2 linked regions of the Homo sapiens genome follow. The protein of the gene in region 2 interacts with the protein of the main gene of each other region in a pairwise test. Each region holds a gene or a part of one and is shown on either strand. Other genes may lie near its edges.

Region 1 (4,861 bases), on a different chromosome or scaffold from region 2:
TCACACCTCTCCAGTGGAGCCATGTGTAAGAAGAGCTGAAAGGTAGAGCTGGGCGTGGTGACTCACAACTTAATACCAGTGAATCGGAGGCCGAGGCAGGAGGATTGCTTGAGGACCAGCCCAGGCAACATGGTGAGACACCTCCATTTCTCCAAAAAAAAAAAACAAAAAAAAAAAAACCTAGCCAGGCATAGTGGTGCATGCTTGTAGTCCTAGCTACTCGGGAGGCTGAGGCAAGAGGATGGCTTGAACTCAGGAGTTTGAGGCTGCAGTGAGCTATGAACACACCACTGCACTCTAGCCTGAGTGAGACAGCAAGAGACCCTGTCTCTTAAAAAACAAACAAACAAACAAAAAACTTCCAGGGAAAAAAGCAAGGCTCAGAAATGTCCTACCCTGCATGCTCTTGTCCAAGCATAAAGGCGGACACTGTGGGTGCAGAAGGTGGATATTATGTATCTTGTCAGTATACAAACACTATTAAACAATAATCAGGGACACAGGAAAAAGTTTGTGAGTTCCTTTCCCTTGTTCAGTGGTTAATGCATACTAAGTTGGTTTAATTTAAAAAAAAAAAAGAGGTTTAACAGTATAAGGGAAACCACCAGAAGTACAAAAGCCACAGTATCACCATCAAAACCAGAAAGCCTGAGGATGAAGAAGGAAAGATGTGTATATCTGATACAGGTTTCATAATTGATAGTCAAAAGATATCATCCAAATTTATTAGATCACTAGATATTAAAACAAACAAGACAAAAAGGAAGACAAATTCATTAAAAACAGGACATTTCTCCCAGCTATTTGGGAGGCTGTGGTGGGAAGATCAATTGAGCCGGTAGGTAGAGACTTCAGTGAGCCGTGATCCTACTGCACTCTAGTGAGGGCAACAGAGTGAGACCCTGTCTCAAAAACAAAAACAAATGACATTTCTCTTAAAAAATTTTTGTTTCGTTTTTTTGAGACAGAGTCTCATCCCGTCATCCAGGCTGGAGTGCAGTGGCCTGATCTTGGCTCACTGCAACCTCCGCCTCCCGGGTTCAAGCCATTCTCCTGCCTCAGCCACCTGAGTAGCTGGGATTACAGGCCCGCACCACCACACTCGGCTAATTTTTAGTAGAGACAGGGCTTCACCATGTTGGCCAGGCTGGTCTCAAACTCCTGACCTCAACTGATCCACCCACCTCGGCCTCCCAAAGTACTGGGATTACAGGCGTGAGCCACTGTACCCAGCCCAACATTTCTTTTGCTCATGAATCTGCAGACTGGGCAGACTGTTTCTCAGCTCAGCTTATGTTGGCTCCCCTCAGTGTCAACTAGGATTGCTTGAAGGCTGGGGCTGGAAATGTTTAAATCTTATCCACATGTCTGTGCCTGGGCTGGGAAGACTCATGCAGCTGGGGTTGGAGCAGGTGGGCCTCCTGGGTATCCCTCTCTCTACGTGAAACACTGTACGCAGCCTCTCCAGTATGGTGGCTTCAGGGTAGCCAATTAAGATATGGTTTTACAATCTATTAAACTGGTAAATGTGATGCCCAAGGCTGGCAAGGATAGATCTATTGTTGGCAAGGGTAAGCTGACTAAACCACTTGGGAGGGCAATTTGGCAATACACACCAAAATGTTAAATTCCGTTTGCTCTAATAATTCTACTGCTAGGAATTTACCTTTCAGATATAAACAAAAGTGTACCGAAATATTTTGTATGAAAATGTCCACTGCAGCACTGAATATACCAGCAAAAAATCTGAACACTCAAGTGTCCATCAGCAGGGACTATGCAGTGAAACAGTGGTTCAAACCTCACCATCACCCTGCTGATGTAGGACACCTTCAGCTATGGCCTGCACTACTGAAGCACCTCCCAGCTCACGGCTCACACCTGCTGGGGTCCTCTTCTGATCACTTCTCCTGTGCAACCAGTGCAACCTGGACTGCCTTTCACACCCACCCCATCACAATTAAGATCCACCAGGGCGTCCCAAACTCCTACCAAACTCCATGTGCTACGCTCCTCCAACCTGGGCCTGCACTGGGCCCCAGCCTCCCCGCTGGCCTTCCTGCTGCCTCTCCCTCTGCCACTTCTAGCCACAGGGTCTTAGCTCAGACTGTTTCCTCTGCCTGCCTTACTCTATTTCTCCTCTCCTCCTCTTGCCCTCAGAGAAGGCCTCTGGTTTTCTTAACCTGGTCAGGGAAGATTCTACCTCCCCCTACCCTGCCCCTTTCATACTTCTAACAGCTGCCATTTTACTTTGTACATTACTGACATTTGTCTTCCCCCACCGAATCATTGAGTTTTACGATAGCAGAGGCTGTATCTACACCGTCCTGGCACCTTGTAGTACCTAGTACATAACAGACACACAGAAACTACTGGGTGAAGTGGGGGCACACTGCACAGGAAACAATGAGACAGATCTGCACATTCTGACATGGGAAGGCTCCTAAGTGGAAACAGAAGGTACAGGGCGGAGTGAAAGCTTTGCTACCTTTTGCTTAATTAAAGCAATTATCTCATCAAAACAGCTGCTTTATACTGGGCCATTATGGCTATGCAGGACAGTAACCCCATCAAACTGCCCTGAGTACAACAGAAAAAGCCCACAGACAGGGCTTGGTTCAGCCACGGCATGATTCAGGGACTCGTTTATGCCACCAGGGTGTGGCGCTCTCTCCCCACTGTCAGACAGTTCTCTTCTCCAAGGGCGGGGCCTACAACAGCTCCCGCTCCAGGTTCAAGATGCAGGAGGAACAAGAAAAGCCTCTTTCAGGGCCTAGTACCCTAGTACGGTAGATCACACAGGCCTCACCCTGGAGAGGGCATGGCCTGGAGGGTGGGGGGACTGCAGGGCAAATGTCCCATCCAAAGCAGAGAACTGAGAATGCAGAGGGTGTGGTTCTTTCGAGGGAAATGTGAGCAGCTACCAAATTAAGGGGAAACAGATGCTGTGAGGCCAAAACAAACATACATCACCATAAGTACATTTACATAAGTAAATGTACTTTTTTTTGGTGGATGGGCAGGGAGGGGGATGTGGGGGCACAAATTGTTAACAGCAGCTTCCACTGGGACAAGCTACCACCGGCGGCAAGAGAGGGATACACTTTTCACTTTGTACCATTCTTTAACACTGACATTTTCTAACCATGTAATGTGCTACTTTTAATTTATTAAAATCACAATTGAGGGTTTTTCCCAAAGAATTTTAGTTCTTAGAAATGACATCTGTATATAAATGTTCTAACTCTTATTCACAGTAGGCTCTAACATGAACGGCAAAATCAGACATCAACAGTAGCACATCATGTTACTCTATACGAAAGCACAGATTTAGGCACTTTATCAAAGAAAAATGTTTAGAAACAAATGAGGTTATTGAGTCGTCTGTCACACTCTGCAAAGGACTCTGATTCCCTACTTAAATCCTTTAAAACTGTCACATTAAATGGAACATATAACCCCTCGACACCAGCAGTACTCTTTCCTAAATAAGGAAACAAAACAGAACCCCTAACTTTACAGACCACATAAAACCTGACAGACACCAAGAGTTCTCTTACTGATGAGTAAGATTCAAGTCAAAGAAATTCAAAACTACTTAGGATTTCAAGTGACATATTTTCTATTCTCCGCATTTCCTGCATAGATTTTGGATTTACACACCCTGGCTTCCTGGCTACAGACATCTGAGTTCACAAAGCATATTTTACCTTTAACATAATGAAAATGATGTATATGGCATGAAGAGTTTACTCAATTAAGTCAAGAGTTTTAAAGTCTTCTCTGATCAGAATTTGCTATCTGATCAGAGCAGGCCACCCAATCACAGCAGGTGCTTGGAGGGGAGTGGAATCTCAGTAGAGTTGATGACTCACCAAGTGTAAATGGGAAAAAGCAACACAGTCACATTTCCATGTAAGGAGATTTTATAGTAAACATGAATTTGTCAGTGTCCAGTATTAATTAGAAAACATCTGTCTTCTTACTTGAAGCCTATTAAGCAGTAATTCTTTGACCACAAACTGGTCATGTGGCAGACCCTTTCTAGAAGACACTAGAATGTCATCCGGTGTGCAGTTGCCTGAGACCACTCCCACCCCAGGAGCTGGGCAAAGAGCTCTCCACGTCCACCTGTCCCCCCACAGCGCGTCACTGCTGCCCCATCACAGGTCTTCTCTTTTATTCCCAGCTCGATTTTCTTCCTTGGAAGACCGAGATTTCAGATCTCCTTCCTTCTTTTTTTTGCCCTTGTCTTGCTTTGTTTTATTTTTCTCTTTGCTTCCTCCTCCTTTGCCGGGGTACACCTGGCCCTCCAGAGTTACATCAGCACACCTGTCTTGACCGACCAAAAAGTCCTTGATCTCCCAGGCGTAGCTCCCATCGCGAAGCATGAAGATAGCACGGTCTGATCCCACAATGAACCTTGGGCAGAGAGATGCAATCAGTCAGCCAGCACGTACTAGTAAGGTGCTAAGGGGTCAGAGCAATTCTCTGGCACTTATCAGTTTATTTCAAATTCTACATGAATATGGAATGAAAAATTGGATTTTCCAAAGCCTAGCAGCTACTGATATCTCATGTATTAAAATACTAGCTTGCTGAACTATTAAACATCCAGCTCAGATCAAAATAGAAACAGACACTGGATGTTCCTTTGTTGTATAAATGGATGCCCGTGTTAAAAGTGAACATTTGGAAAACCTCCCTAGGACACTGCAGAGGTGGCTCAGGGGCTGCTGCTGGGGAGGTAAAGAGGCAGCTTCGATCTGATCTGTATCTGTTTTATATTCTAGAGTGTCCAGTTACACTTTTATGGGACAAAAGACTTCTGCTGATAAAGGTGGAAAACCAATGGCTTAGA
Region 2 (7,293 bases):
AAACCACCTGTACCCCACCCCCAAATTACTGAAATAAAAACAGAAGAGAAAGTCATTCTACCAGACATTAAGACCTATTACTGAGTTACAGTAACAAATGTAGCATGGCAAAGCTGCAAGAACAGAAAAACAGACCAAAGAATGGAATAGGGAGCTCAGAGACAGATATGTGAATAAGTGAAAACCCACATCTGGTAAAGGAAGCCCCACAAAACCCTGGGAAATGGATGGATAGTACAGCTACAAAAGAAAATGTGGACAAAATTGGCTTCATATAAACTAACCAAAAGTGTCCCCAAGAAGTCAAAAGGCAACAAAAGACAGAAAAAAAGATTTATTTTAACACATAGTCTCATAAGTAAATATGGGAAAATAACCCAAAGGAAAACAGCAATGTAAGATGATCTCTTCCACAAAAAGAAAAAAAATGGCAAGAGATGTTCTATCCCACTCTTATTTAAGGAAACGTTCACTAAAAGAAGAAATATGCAGACTGACAAAAATTTAGTGTGGTGAGTCCTCAAAGATCTAGGGGCAGAAATACCATTTGACCCAGAAATCCCATTACTGGGTATAGATCCAAATGAATATAAATCATTCTGTTATAAAGATATATGCATGCATATGTTCATTGCAGCACTATTCAGAATAGTGAAGACAAGGAATCAACCCAAATGCCCATCAGTGATAATCCAGACAAAGAAAATGTGGTTCATATACACCATGGAATACTATGCAGCCATAAAAATGAACAAGATCATGTCCTTTGCAGGAACATGGATGGAGCTGGAAGCCGTTATTCTCAGCAAACTAATGCAGGAACAGAAAACCAAACACCACATGTCCTCACTTACAAGTGGGAGCCGAACAAGGGAAACTCATGGACACATGGTGGGGAACAACACACTCTGGGGCCTGTCACAGGGAGGGGTTGGGGAGGTGAGAGCATCGGGAAGAATAGCTAATGGATGCTGGGCTTAATACCAAGGCGATGGGTTGATAGGTGCAGCAAACCACTATGGCACACGTTTACCTATGTAACCAACCTGCATAGCCTGAAACTTAAAATAAAAGTTGAAAAAAATAATAATAATAATGTAATACTCTTGGCGAAGTTATGGGAAAGCTGTTGCCATCAAACTCAGCTAATAGGAATAGATTTTTTATTATTATTAAAATTGTGGAGTAAAATGGCCTTTTATTCTGCAATTGCACTTTTGGGAATTTGTCCTGCAGAGATATTCACACAAATAAGCAATGGTCACTGTACACACATGCTGACTGCAACAGGTTTAATTTAGCAAAAGTCTGAAACAAGCTAAATATACATTGATGGAAAGAGGTTTAGATAAACATCCACACAACAGAATGCTAGTACCATAGAATACAATGCAACTACAAAAAAGGAGGAAACAGGTCACTAGCTGTGTCACACAATGCAGGCTGGAAGGTAAATCAGTACAGAGATTCTGGAAGGCAAATTGGCCATATCTACAATAACTGGAAAGATACACAAGTGCTTTCAACAAAGGTGTGAAACAAATAAAATATGGAATGTTATGCCATGCTAAAAAAAAAAAAAACAGCTGTAAGACACACTGTCGAGTGGCAAAAATAAGCCACAAAATGCATACATGTAAATAGCAAAGGGCAAAATACATAGTATATATATATATGAAATACATATTTCTATGTATATGGAAATATACACATTTCATTGACTCCTAATTATTAAATTAAATAAACATATTAATAACATTATAATTTAATAATTAGGAATATATATAGTATATATGGAAATATATATTTCTATGTATATGAAATATATACATTTCATTGACTCCTAATTATTAAATTAAATAAATATGTTAATAAATTTAATATATATTAAAATATATAAATATGTATATATTTCATTGACTCCTATTTATATAAATAAAATACATAGTATATATATGGAAATAGATGATATAGATAGATCGATGGATGGATAGATAGATAGATAGATAGACAAGAAGGATGAATAGATAGGATAAAGGATGGATGGACGGATGGATGGATGGATGGATGGATGGATGGATGGATGGATGAACGGATGGACAGATGTATAGATAGATAGATAGATAGATAGATAGATAGATAGATAGATAGATAGATAGACAGATAGATAAGCAGACAGTTAGATGACAAATTGATGTCTCAAGAGACCCCTTTAGGGAAAGCGAGGATATTAGGTGGGGTGGTGGGAATGTCAAGGTTAAACCCTGTCTTATCTGTAGTGTCGCATTGAGTCCAAGAAGAATCTGTTCTCATCATTGCTTTTGGAAGTCAACACTCATTTTCCATGTATAAATGCAAAATAGAATGGTACTCAGTCTTTAAAATGAAAAGAATCCTGTCGTTGGTGACAATATGGATGATTCTGGAGGACATTATGCTAAGTGAAATAAGCCAGGCACAAGAAGACAAATAGCAAATGATCTCAATTACCTGTGAGAGCTAAAATAGGTTACATAGAAATCACAGAGACAGAAGAAAATGGTGGTTGCCAGAGGAGGGAGGAAGAAAGAACAGGAAGATGTTGGTCAAAGGGTACAAGTTTCCATTAGACGGGAGGAAAAAGTTTTGAGATCTATTATATGCATGGTGACTACAGTTAATAATAATAGATTATGTTTTCCAAAACGGCTAAAAGAGAAAATTTCAAATGTTCTCACTGCTAAAATAATAAGTATATGAGGTAATGGATATGACCATCAGGTGGATTTAATCATTCTGCATTGTGTACATCATAACATCACAGTGTACCCCATAAATATATATAATCAAAATTTGTCAATTAAAAATAAAGACAAATTAAAAAACAAACTCATTTTCTAAAACTCATATTTTGAGAAAAACAGAAGATGGTAAAGATACATTGTTAGTGGGCAGACCTGTGTCTATTTTATGTACTCCTACTCACACAGAAAAAGAGAGCATGTGTTCATATACAGTGGGCATCAGGATAGCCATTTTCTAGGACACACAGAAAACCATTGATGATGGAAACTGCCAGAGTGAGGAGTGTGAGGCTTAAGAAGGAAGCTCATTTTTTATCAAAATTTTTGGACACTTTTTTAAACAATGTGTAATTTTGCTTGAAATCTTGGTTTTAAAAGCATAAAAATGTTTCTCCACCTTACAGGACCCTGTGCTGAGCAAAGGCTTGGATGTAAGGGCACTACCTTCAAAAGGCCTGTCCAGCTCAATGTCTCCTCTCCATCCCCAGCTCCTGGCCTGGCTCAGACCTCAGAATGTCCTTCCCTGGGACTTCCTTCTACAACTGGTCCTCTCCAGTATGCCCTCTACACTAGCCCTAAAAAGATTCTCCTGCTACCTGTCTCTTCCCATTGCCCTTGAGTTAAAATTGAAGTTCTTGACTTTTTTTTCCATGTATTCCACACCCAGGCTCTGCTGCCATCTCCAGGTTCATCATCTCATCATGACTCAGTTTCTCCCTCTCTATTCATCTCTCTGTTTCTGTCTTCCCTCTCTCTTTCTTTCTCTCTTGCTTTCCTTCTCTCTCCATTCTCTTTTTATGACCTTCTCCCTCCCCCTGCACACAAGCCACTTCTCTCTTTCCCTCTTTTCTTTCTCTTCTCTCTCTCTGTTTCTCTCACTCTTGGTCTCTCTCTCTCTCTCTTTCTGTCTCTCTCTCTCTCTCTCTCTCTCTCTCTCTCTCTCTCTCTCTCTCTCTCCCTCTCTCTCTCACTCCCTCTCTCCTCCCTCGACCTTTGCCTAGGCTCTCTTCTTGACCTAGAGCCCTACTGCATCCAAATATCTACTGATCATTATTAAGGATCTCAACTGAGACACCTCACTTTTATTTTCATCTATTCATGTCTTTTAGAGAAAAATTCTCACTATGTTGTCCAGGCTCATCTTGAAGTACTGGCCTCAAGTGATCCTCCCACCTCAGCCTCCTGAGTGGCTGGGATTACAGGTGCCAGCCACTGTGGCCGGGTGAGACACTTTCTGTACCTCCAGTCATGCTTCTCTTGTTCTCAGCCTCATCCCTGCCCATGTGGGCTGGGAGTTTCCTGTCCTGGGACTGTTCCCCCACCAGGCTGGGAGCACCTGGAAAACAGATCGCAGGGCTGGATTCTTCCAAGCTCTCCAGAGCACCGAAAGGTGCTAGATACAAAACTGGGGATAGGAATACAGTGTAGGAGCATTTGCTGAATGAAGACTGGATGGATGAACAATGCAGGTGTTCTGGATAGGAATGAATGACTTTTACCCTCAGGTCTCTCTTATAAATCCCTGGACTGTACAACAGGATTGAAATTAGGGTAAGGAAGAGCAAACATTCAGAAAGTGAAGATGTTTGAAAAAACATGATAATTCAGTGAAAAGAGGAGGTGGAGGAGAAATTCATTTGCTGAACACATGCTAAGTGGCATCATCTGCCTTCACATGCTGTCACAAATTCTCCCAGCAGCCCAGGTCCCAAAAGCCTGCAAACCATCCCCTGCTGGCCTGGCTGTGTATTAAGCCCTGCCTCTGAGATTTGCACCGATTCCCACTAAGCGATAATGGAAGAATTGACCAAAAAAACTCCCTCCCTCTGCCCACCTGAGGAGCAGAACCAATGACAAAAGATCAGGAACAGGCCAGCACCTGCACTCACCATTCAATCTCTATAGGTTCACGGTCCTTCAGAAGCTCTTGCACTTCTTGCCGGCACTGTTCCTGGTATTCTGGGTGCTTTGCAAGGTGGTATAGGACCCAGGAGAGACCACTGGCTGTAGTGTCATGGCCTGAGGGGCAGCCAAGCAAAACTGGGTTTCTGGGCTGCTTCAGCACCAGAGGGAGGAGAGCACCCAAACTCTGAGGCCCTCAGGAGAATGTAGGGAGGAGGAGGATGGGCAGAATTAAGTGATCCAGGGTCCACCCACTACGTTCCTGGGATGGAGAGGCCCCTGTCCCCACCGTAGTCCCACACTGAGACCCTCACCCTCAAACATGAAGGTGTCAGCTTCTGCTCTTATGTCCTCATCAGACAATTCCTTCCCATCTTCATCCTGGAGAGAAGGCAAGACAATATCCCTGCCCCAAATCACACCAGCTCTGAAGGCTCTTGAGTCAAACCTAAGATAATTTCTGAAGATCCATCCTCCTTCCAGAAACCCAAGCCCATCATGCACTCCTAGATGTCTCTTGGTCACCACCATCAGAGCCCACCACCCACAGGCTTCCCGCTGGCTTCTTCACCTCCTATTTGGCCCTGCTGGGAAGAGTCAATGACCTATGGATATTTTCTTGTTTCGAATAATGAGGACTTTTGGAGTAAAGCATTAACTGGCAACCTGGGTTACAGCATATTTCAATGGCAATTTCACTTGGAGGTTAGAAATTAAGTATTGGCTGGGCGTAATGGCTCACGCCTATAATCCCAACACTTTGGAAGGCCGAGGCAGGTGGGTCACCTGAGGTCGGGAGTTCGCAACCAGCCTGACCAACATGGAGAAACCCCGTCCCTACTAAAAAAAAAATTAGCCTGGCATGGTGTTGCATGCCTGTAATCCCAGCTCTTCAGGAGGCTGAGGCAGGAGAATCACTTGAACCCGGGAGGCAGAGGTTGCAGTGAGCCAAGATCACACCATTGCACTCCAGCCTAGGCAACAAGAGTGAAACTCTGTCTCAAAAAAAATGAAAGAAAGAAAGAACTGAAGTATTACTCTGAATGTATTTGCTCACATTCTAGAGTGGTAAACTCAGAGAATACTTCTTATCTTTCCAGAAGGCATCTGGGTTATAAACCTATAAACCTACAGGCATGTCGATCTCACTGGAAAGGAGTAGTTTTTATTCCAGAACAAAGCAAACATCCTCTCTCTCTCTCTCTCTCTCTCTCTCTCTCTCTCTCTCTCTTTCTCATTCCCACTCTCGCCCTGGAAGGAAGAAGGGGCAGATGTGCTAGCTAGCTATCCTATATAAGCCCCAAGATGTATACTGTGGGGCCCCTCTCTGCAGTGCATTCTGGTGTATTTACAGGTAAAAACATTGCATTACCCTAGAAGGAATATGGGAATAGAGAGCCAGCTCTACAATCCTACTCTGGTTGCTGCTATTGCTGTGAATGATGAATAGGCTGCTGTGATCCAGGGATTTGGTGCATCTGTCATCATAGATATAGACATAGATAGATATGCATAAAAATATGTCAGCCTAACTTGCTAACATGTAAGTAGAGTAAAATCTCAGGCTCCTCACTATTTCAAACTTAGCAGTCCCCTGCCAGCTGAATTCCACAGAGTCATCTCTCAAACCTATCTCTGACCTGTCTTTTTCAAGCATGTTCCATGGCTCCCAGTGCCCTTTGGATCAAGTCCAAGTTCTTTCATTTGACAGAGGCATAAATCTCCACTCTATTACTTGAATTCACATCCCAGAGAAGCCTACCTTGCTCAGCAGAAGCACATCAATGAAGTCTAAAGTCTTGGACTTTGCCTTGTTCTTGAGGAAATCATCAATACCCTGAGTGGGGAGGGTGCAGCGCCGCTCCTGGATGACGGCATCTGTGAAGTCGTGCACCAGGTGGCAGGCCCTGCGGAAGCGCTGCCCATCAGGAGTGAGATAATACAGGAAGTCCGTGTGCAAGAGAATCTGCTGGTTTCTCTTTTCTACAAAGGCACTGAGCTCCAAGATGGCGGCAATATATTCACTGGGCTTCCTGCATGAAGGAGGTAACAACTTAACATATGCAAAGTCCCAGGAGCACCTCTCACCAGCAGCTAGAAGCTACTGCCCATCAGGAAATTGAGTATCCAGAAACAGCCAGGAGACTTGACTCTCCAAACTCTCTTCTCTGAGGCATTCCATCTCTGAGAGCTGCCTCCATGCACCAAGGTACCCAGAGCATAGCTTGGACACCATGCTTCTCTCCCGTCTCTCCCACCCAGTATCCAGCCTGCACTCTTTTCCTTCCAAAAACTGTTCACAAAACTCAGACCTCACTGTCTTCCAGCTCTTTCTGACCCAGCCCCCACCATAACAGACTTGCATTCAATGTCTGCTCCATGTAGCGTCTACATGACAGGCAGACCTCCACAGAGCTCAGCTGTGACCACATCTGTCATCGGCCCAACCCTCTTCAAAAGATTCCTGGGAACCTCCTGATAAAGTTCATGCCACTTTTCCTGATTTTCAATGTCCTGAAATCTATCCCCTGTCTACTTCCACAACCTCATGTCTACTGTCTCTTTCCCCCTCCCCATCCTTCAAAGCCCAGCTATGACACACAGAAAG

The links.
Region 1: the proteins of CYP4F11 (region 2) and MESD interact in binary tests that used the Homo sapiens proteins (3 or more experiments, as listed by UniProt).

The regions. Positions count from the first base shown.
Region 1 is NC_000015.10:80,975,056-80,979,916, forward strand, and holds the end of MESD (LRP chaperone MESD precursor), read right to left. Parts: intron 4,423-4,861; coding exon 4,164-4,422; 3' UTR 697-4,163; downstream 1-696. UniProt on the Homo sapiens protein: Chaperone specifically assisting the folding of beta-propeller/EGF modules within the family of low-density lipoprotein receptors (LDLRs).
Region 2 is NC_000019.10:15,917,365-15,924,657, forward strand, and holds part of CYP4F11 (cytochrome P450 4F11), read right to left. Parts: intron 6,719-7,293; coding exon 6,448-6,718; intron 5,067-6,447; coding exon 5,000-5,066; intron 4,803-4,999; coding exon 4,673-4,802; intron 1-4,672. UniProt on the Homo sapiens protein: A cytochrome P450 monooxygenase involved in the metabolism of various endogenous substrates, including fatty acids and their oxygenated derivatives (oxylipins).